Linked DNA regions of Homo sapiens. The protein of the gene in region 2 purifies or fractionates together with the protein of the main gene of each other region. This does not show direct contact. Each region holds a gene or a part of one and is shown on either strand. Other genes may lie near its edges.

What was found. Proteins that work in one complex are often made in the same cells at the same time.
Region 1: the proteins of DRC3 (region 2) and PRKD2 purify together in Homo sapiens (affinity purification with mass spectrometry; one large-scale study listed by BioGRID and IntAct). This does not show direct contact.

Annotation. Positions count from the first base shown.
Region 1 is NC_000019.10:46,714,672-46,718,417, forward strand, and holds the start of PRKD2 (serine/threonine-protein kinase D2), read right to left. Parts: upstream 2,140-3,746; 5' UTR 1,700-2,139; coding exon 1,460-1,699; intron 1,380-1,459; exon of another isoform or gene 1-1,379. Other genes in the region: uncharacterized protein LOC107987269, read right to left, coding at 2,140-2,506, 3,128-3,305, 3,682-3,746.
Region 2 is NC_000017.11:18,003,775-18,007,420, reverse strand, and holds part of DRC3 (dynein regulatory complex subunit 3), read right to left. Parts: intron 3,059-3,646; coding exon 2,927-3,058; exon of another isoform or gene 2,917-2,926; intron 1,239-2,916; coding exon 1,168-1,238; intron 398-1,167; coding exon 274-397; intron 24-273; coding exon of another isoform or gene 1-23. UniProt on the Homo sapiens protein: Component of the nexin-dynein regulatory complex (N-DRC) a key regulator of ciliary/flagellar motility which maintains the alignment and integrity of the distal axoneme and regulates microtubule sliding in motile axonemes.

The sequences.
Region 1 (3,746 bases), on a different chromosome or scaffold from region 2:
CCTGGACCTGGCAGAAAAATAAAACTGGGGTGAAGCCTGAGCGGGGCAGGCTGGGGACTTGAGCACTGGACAAAGAAGTTCACCCAAGGGACAATCTGCCCCCGTACCCCCACTGCCACCAGCTTCCCATGAAGTGGGCTGAGTTGGGGTGGTGAGCTGGGCCTGCGGGATTGAGGCATTTGGTGGGCAAAACCCTATCAGTTCTCACTGCTAAGAGAGAGTCCACAGAAGACCAGGACTGCCTTGGCCCTGACCCCTTGGGAAGTTTTTCTCTAAGCTTCAGTTTCCTTGTCTGTAGAATGGGGGAGCTGGCCCAGTTCCCCACGTTTCTCTGATGCCCAAAGGATTCATTTCCAGGAGTCTGAAAAGATTCTGGAATTTGGATATTTTGGGACTCCAACATGCTCACATTATAGAATTATACATTCTAGATTCCTACCTGGTATCACTATACATTTTAGGATTTCAATAACCTAAATAAGCGGTAATCTAATATTTTAATATTCTAGGAGTCTGACAAGCTAGGACTGTGCTCTTTGAATTCTTTAGCATTCAAGGACCTCATCCATCCAGCATTCTAAAATTCTAACATTTTAACTTTCTAGGATTCAACAATCTAGGAATCTAATATTCCAGCATTTTAATGTTTTACTATTTCACAAACCTAGAATTCTAATATTTGAACACGAACATGGGGGCAATTTAATTGCCTAGGATGCATATTCCAACAAGTTATGATTCTAATATTCTAACATTTCTACAGTCCAGTACTCCAACACAGAAGCCCACTATTCTTTTAACATTTCACGGTTTAGACGTGGAGTTCCACCTGGTTTCCTCTTGCCATAACACCCAGCTGCCCACCCTGGGGACCCTGGTGTCCAAAATTAAGAGTAGGCTAACAGCACTGTGACTAGGAAAGGGAATAGAGTCCCCAGGGTCTGTAGGAGTGCCTGCCCCTCCACACATATCTCAGGCTTAGGGGAGGGCAGAATTGGGCTCCGAGACCTCACTTGCCCCTGGCAGCTAACTCAAGCACCTGCACCCACACATGTCACCGGATCACCATGGCCAGCCCGGGTTCAATTTCTCCTGTTTCCACCAAATGGGAGGCCCGGGATGGGCCTGGACGTGGAGGTCCGCCGACATCTGCTGCCCCTTCCTCCCCTCTCTACACCTGGCTGGCCCCTCCCTTCCTCCCTGTTTGCTGCAGAAAACAACGACATGCAGGGACATGAAATTTGGGGAGGCCTCTGGGGCACCCCACCCCTGCCCAGTCCTCTCTCAAAGGGATGGTGGGGAGAGGGGCAATGGAGGGGGGCAATGCCCCCTATCCCTCCATCACCCAAAGCTCAGGTCTCCTTCCTCCCTCTTCCGCACACCAGGCCCCAGACCCCTCTGCCAGCGCCCCCTCCTTCAACCTCTCCCCGAGCTGGATCCAGGGAGCCTGCGCCCTCACCTTCTGGTCCACGATGGAACAGGCCAGCTGCTTCACATGAGCCAGCTCGGAGGCGGCGGGCAACAGCACGAACTCGCGGGTCAGCCCGATCTGGATGTGAAAGGAGACCCCGGAACCCGGGGCCGGGATCTGGGGCAGTAGCGGTGGCGGCGACTGCAGCTCTAGGCCGCCGGGGGGCGGAGGAGACCCCGGCCCGGGAGAGCCAGGGAGCCCGGCGGGATAAGAGGGGGCGGTGGCCATGGGGGGAGGCCGGGGACCGGCCGCCTGGAGCCCACCCGGGACCCGGCCGGGGGGCCCCGGGGGACCCTGGGTTCTAGATCCGCGGGATCTCGTGAGCAGGTGGTGGGAGAGCGGGGATCCGAGAAAAGATCTGGCAGGCGGAGGGGACCTGAGGATGGCGGGGTCCTGGGAAGGAGAGAAAGGCACTATAGTGGGTCAGAGGCCCGGAATCCAGGGCTCCCAGAAGATCAGAAAGGAGAAAAGTAGTGGGTTGGAGGTCCCAGCGATTGAGATTCCAAGAAGCCTGAGAGGAAATCTAGTAGGTCGGGGTCACAGGGATCAGGAGAGCCCGCGATTCAAAGGCCCCTTCCCTAGAGGAGGGATTGAGAAGGGGGCAGAGGGAATCCCAGGATCCAGTGCTCCAAGAAGAGGATCCCACTCAGAAGGCGGCCCGGGGGAATTCACCTTGGGGGTGGAGGGCAGGAGTCTCTGAGTCGGGGACCGAGTGGATTCCAGAGATAAAGGGGTTCGCAGGGACCCGACCGGCCAGGGGATGGGCAGAGGGGTCCCGAGGGCCGGAGTGGGTAGAAGGGAATCTCACGAGTCGCAGAAGTTGGAGAAAAGTTCGGTCGGGAGCCGTGAGGAAGGGGGCGTTGCCGGAGCGGGGTTGGGTGGGGGGCAGGGAGGGTCGCCAGGCGCCAGTAGCTCTTTTTCCCCCTCCAAAGTTTAAGTCGGCGGCGGCGGCGGCGGCCCAGGAGGAAGTGTCCGGAGCGACAGTGCAGTCGACCAATCGGCGCGGGCCTCGGCGACGTCAGAGAGGGGCGGAGCCTGCCGAGGGGCCGGGGGCGGAAGGGGAGGGTGGGCCCGGGGCCTCCGAGTTGGGGGCTGGACCTCCGCCTCCAGGGTCCGGGACAAGGGATGGTGTGAGGGATGGAGGGCAGGCAGGCGAGACCAGTTCCTTCCCTGAACACAGCCAAGCCTGGAAAGTTAACTTTTCCCTCGGCTGGACAGGGAGGGGAAACACTATCACCCACCGCCGGTCGCAGGCGTCGGGCTTGGAGGCCACTGGCCCTTTAAGGAGGGGAGCCCTCTCCGGCAGGCGTCCGGCGCCCATGGCAGGGGACGGGTGGGAAATCGGTATCAGGTCCCGGCCCGCTCTCTGGGTTCGGCCTCTCTGTTCTCCGAGCGTCACCCCTGCCCTCCCCGCCGCGTCCCAGCCCAGGGAAGGGGGTGCTGCAGAGCGTCCCCCGGCCCCAGCCCATTTAACACATGGAAAGACCGAGGCCTCCAGATGGGTAGGAAGGGGCTCGCCTTAGGTCTGTCTCCAGCGATGGTGGGCAAGGTGCATGGCGCTAACTGGATGGGTGGGGAGGGTCCATCCCCCCGCCCACCCCAACCCCGCCTTAGGATAGTGTGGGGCTGCCCCGAGGGAGGACAGCACACCCATACCACTTCATAGATGCAGAGTGTGTCTCCTGGGGATGTGGAGTACGTGTGCGTGTCTTTCTCTCCATGTGACTTTGGGTGAGTGGCTTCTCTGTGAGCCTCAGTCCCTCCATCTGTTGGGACTGTAATAGGACTGACCCCACATGGGATGGTGGGAGCCGATGCCATGGTATACTGGTGCCTGGAAACGCAGCAGTTCAGTAAGAGGTGGTTGTCTCTGATAATACGCGGAAAGGGGTGGCCACCTCCAGCACTCAGGCTTTGATGGGTGGGCACACCCATTCAGTCACCCAGCAAGTATCTGTGAGGACCTACTGGGTGCTGGGTGGGCCCTGCTGTAAAACTCCAGCCGCTACAGGGGTCAGGCTTGATCTCTCCTCCCCAGCTAATAATCAAATAGTGGCTACCATTTAGTTTACACAGAATAAGCTGAAGCCTCAGAGAAGCAAAACGTCTTGCCCAAGATCCCAGAGTGAAGTTGCTTGAGGGAAGCTGCCCCACCCACCCCTTTGATTGACAAGTCAAGGCCTAGGTTTGAGCTCTAAGAGAAGGGCCACCTGTCTGGCTGGGATGCTGGCAGGACTGGAAATGGCAGGGCTGGCTGAGGATGGGGGCTGCCAGA
Region 2 (3,646 bases):
TAATTGAACTTTTGGAAACGACCCTGTTGGAAAGTTGAAACCATCTAATTATCATGAGCTCCTCTTTAACTGGGCCCCACTGGGTGCCCCACCAGGTGCTTTGTTAGCCTATTTTATCTGCCAGCAACCCTGTAAAGCAGGTTAGTGTGCCCTTTTGCAGATGAGAACACTGAGGCTCTGGGAGGTTGTCAGGCTTACTCACAGAGCCTCAGTCCAGCCACAGAGCTGGGCTGGACCACATCTGTCAGGCTCCGAGCAGCCCGCCCCGCCTACCGCGCGCAGGTCGTTAGGCAGGTCCTCGTCCAGGTCGCCCTCGACAATCTTCTCCAGGGTGCTGATAGAGATCTCCAGGAGCTTCTCGTGGTGGTGATTCTCCAGGTCCCGGCACTGAGCCATCGTGCAGCCCCGAGTTAAGCAAAGGCCCGGGAGGAGCAGGCCCGGCGCGTCCCTGATGCTCTCAGACGGCGGGAGACAGACTTTAAGGGCCCAAGGCGAGCTCGGAAATTCTGGCTGGCAGCACCGTCCACTCACAAGCTCCGAACCCTGGGCCTTCCTCGACTCCCTGCCCCTGCCCCACACCTCGGACGGACCCTCGGCCCCTGCCATCACACTCTTCTCTCCCTCCTGCATGGAGGCTCCTGGCCTCTGGGTTAACTGCTTCTCACCCTGTGCATTTGGCACCACTTGTTGCCTCTACAACTTGTCTCCCTGAGGGACTGTGAGCCCCAGGAGGGCAGGACCACAGGGCTGCTGCTAGCTGGAGCACAGCAGTTTGCCCCATGTGGAGTGCCCTGAGTTCGGGTGGAAGAAGGGTTGGCCATGCTCCGATGTTGGCTCCTCACCCTAACATTTCACCTGATGTACTCCTTATAGTGTCTTCCACGTGGGGGTTGCCTCAACCCCAGAGTGTGCTTGCCTGCAACACAGGGGGCGTCATTTCCTAGTGAACATCACTCATATGAGAACAATCATGCTGGGAGCCTACTGCAAACAGTTTGGATGTTGTCCCTCTGGGCATCCAAACCACAGCTCTAACCAGGCCATCATTGTTCTGAGGGTCGGGAAACCTCCTCAGACCCTGTGGAACATTCTTTTGTCCAGAGGCCGGGACAAGCCCAGGGGCTCTGTAGCACCTCCCCATGGGGAAGGTCATCACAGAAAGGATATAGGCTTTGGACATTTTCGATAAACAGTCCTACCATGTCAACAATGTTCCTTTCAAACATGTTTATAGTCTCCTGGAAATGTTAAAGAACACAGTTAACATGCATATTTAGATGTCCAGCACAGAGCAAAAGGTACTCCTCAAAATTTAGCAACCAGCTCCTCTAATCACAGACCTTCAGCATAAAGACCACCCATCTTGACCCTCCTGAGCAGATGGTTGTGAACTGACCCCTCTGCTCTCTCTAAAGTTGTTGTTCTCCAACCATATTAACTCCCTCACCATCTGAATGTTTAATGCTGTCACCGGAACTTTGCCAGGAACACTTGTCCTGGTCTTACTCCCCTTACCTGCCTGCCCAACACACACACACACAGCCAACCCCCTCTCCTTTGGGTTTCCCAGTGACATCTGTGCATCACCTCCAGGGAAACAGTGGAGTGAGCTGTTAAGAGCTAGACTGCCTGGGTCAGTATTCCCAGCTCCAGCACTCTGTGTAACTCTGGGAAAGGCATTTCACCTCCTTGGGCCTTATCTTCCTCATCTGGGAAATAGGTTACCTGCATAATCCCTGCGTTGTGGCGTTGTGGTGAGGTTAAATGAGTCACTTCACACAAAATGCTTTGCAAGGTGCCTGACAGAGAGGAGGCCCTCAGTAGGAGCGGGCTGGCACTCCAGATCTCTTTCAGTTAGTTGCTGTTTTGTGGTGCTTAGCAAGGCACCTAAGGCCCAAATGGGAGTTAGTGTTGATTGAAGGAACAATGGAAGATGTGATCTCCAGGCCTGCCACTCTCGGAGTGCCCCACTCCCATCTGCTATAGACTCCAGGGGCTGCAAGGTGGGCAGGGGTGGAATCTATAGGAATGTGAGTACTGTCTGCAGAGTGAGCACCTCACATAATTTTCAAACACATGTATGTGCTGTTCTCGTGAATAAAAATAGGGTCATTGAAAAGCATGATTGCGCTTGTGGCTTTCTGGCCACCAGTAATACAAGTAGGATGGCACATGGGTTCTGGGAAATGTTTGGATGTTGAAAGGCAATCTCCGTGCCTGAAAAGGCTGGGAGCTGCTGCCTCACTCGCCCCTGGCACTGTGCGCTGCTTCTGCAGTGCCTGTGCTCTCCAGCAGGGAGGGAGCACCTGCCCTGTGATGTGATGGGGAAATCTATCCCATGTCTGAGGTGTCACTTGACGTGTGAGGAATTGATTAGGTGCTATCACTTGGCCCAGCCACAGCAGCATCCGATGAGGTTCAATTCATCACACCACTTCAGACTCCCAGCCTCCGCTGCCTTGTAACACATACTCTGGCTGCTAATGAATTTCAGACAGCGGCGCTTTTCATTTTCACTACTTAGTGCTGAGTTGCAGCCTCCTCACGTCACCTGAGAAGCGGCAACTGCAGGCTGCAATGCGGAGGGGTCTTTGTTTGGTCCCCAAGTGGGGGTGCGCTTTGCCTTTAGAGTACCCGGATAGCTCCAGGGGTCTAATCAAAAACCTCTCCCCACTGACTTCCAGGATAGGGGGACCATTTCAGAAGAATGAGCTCACCTCTCATTTTCCACAAGAATCACTTCCAATGTAAATGATTAAAATGTAATAAAAGCAAACAGGACTGATGAGCAAGAAAGCTACAGCCTGCCACGCTGAGTCGTGCTGGACGTTTCCAGCAGAGGCGTGCCCATGAAGGCTACAGTTCACCTATGGATGTGCAGCTGCATCGCCAGATTCTGGCACTTGTGCCCAGGGCCCAGCCTTACCTCCAGCTGCTCCACCAGCTGCATCTCCAGCGTCATGAGCGCATCGAACAACTCACTGATGTCAGCACTGCATTCTAGGATCATCTTCTCAATGTTGGGCAGTTCCAACTCCTCTCGAATGGCACTTAAACTCTAGAAACAATAGACTGCACTTTAGGAATCAACAACTAAGTGTAATTAGATAATGGCAGGTGGCAATTTGGTTTTGTGGGTAAGAATTTGGACTCGAGTCAGCCTGCCCAAGTGCAAGTCTCAGCTTTGCCATTTGCTGGCTCTGAAAGCGTGTAGAAGCTACCTACCCTCTCCATGCCTCAGTTTCCTGGTCTGTAAAGTGCGATTGATAGCCCCTACCCTTGACACAAGTGAGAGAACACATGTGAGGCTCTTTGAGCACTAGCAAGTGCTCACTCCCTGTAAGCTCAGGTTTTTATTAGAGGCTGGTAGGCAGGGTAGAAGGAGCCATGGCTTTCATGGGGTTCAGAGCATTTCACACCAAAATATGCCGCTTTGGCATAGTGATTATTTTGAGTTAAAGATACTTAAAGGCCGGGAGCAGTGGCTTATGCCTGTAATCCCAGCACTTTGGGAGGCCGAGGTGGGTGGATCATGAGGTCAGGAGATTGAGACCATCCTGGCTATCACAGTGAAACCCCATCTATACTAAAAATACAAAAAAAAAAAAAAATTAGCCAGGCATGGTGGCGGGTGCCTGTAGTCCCA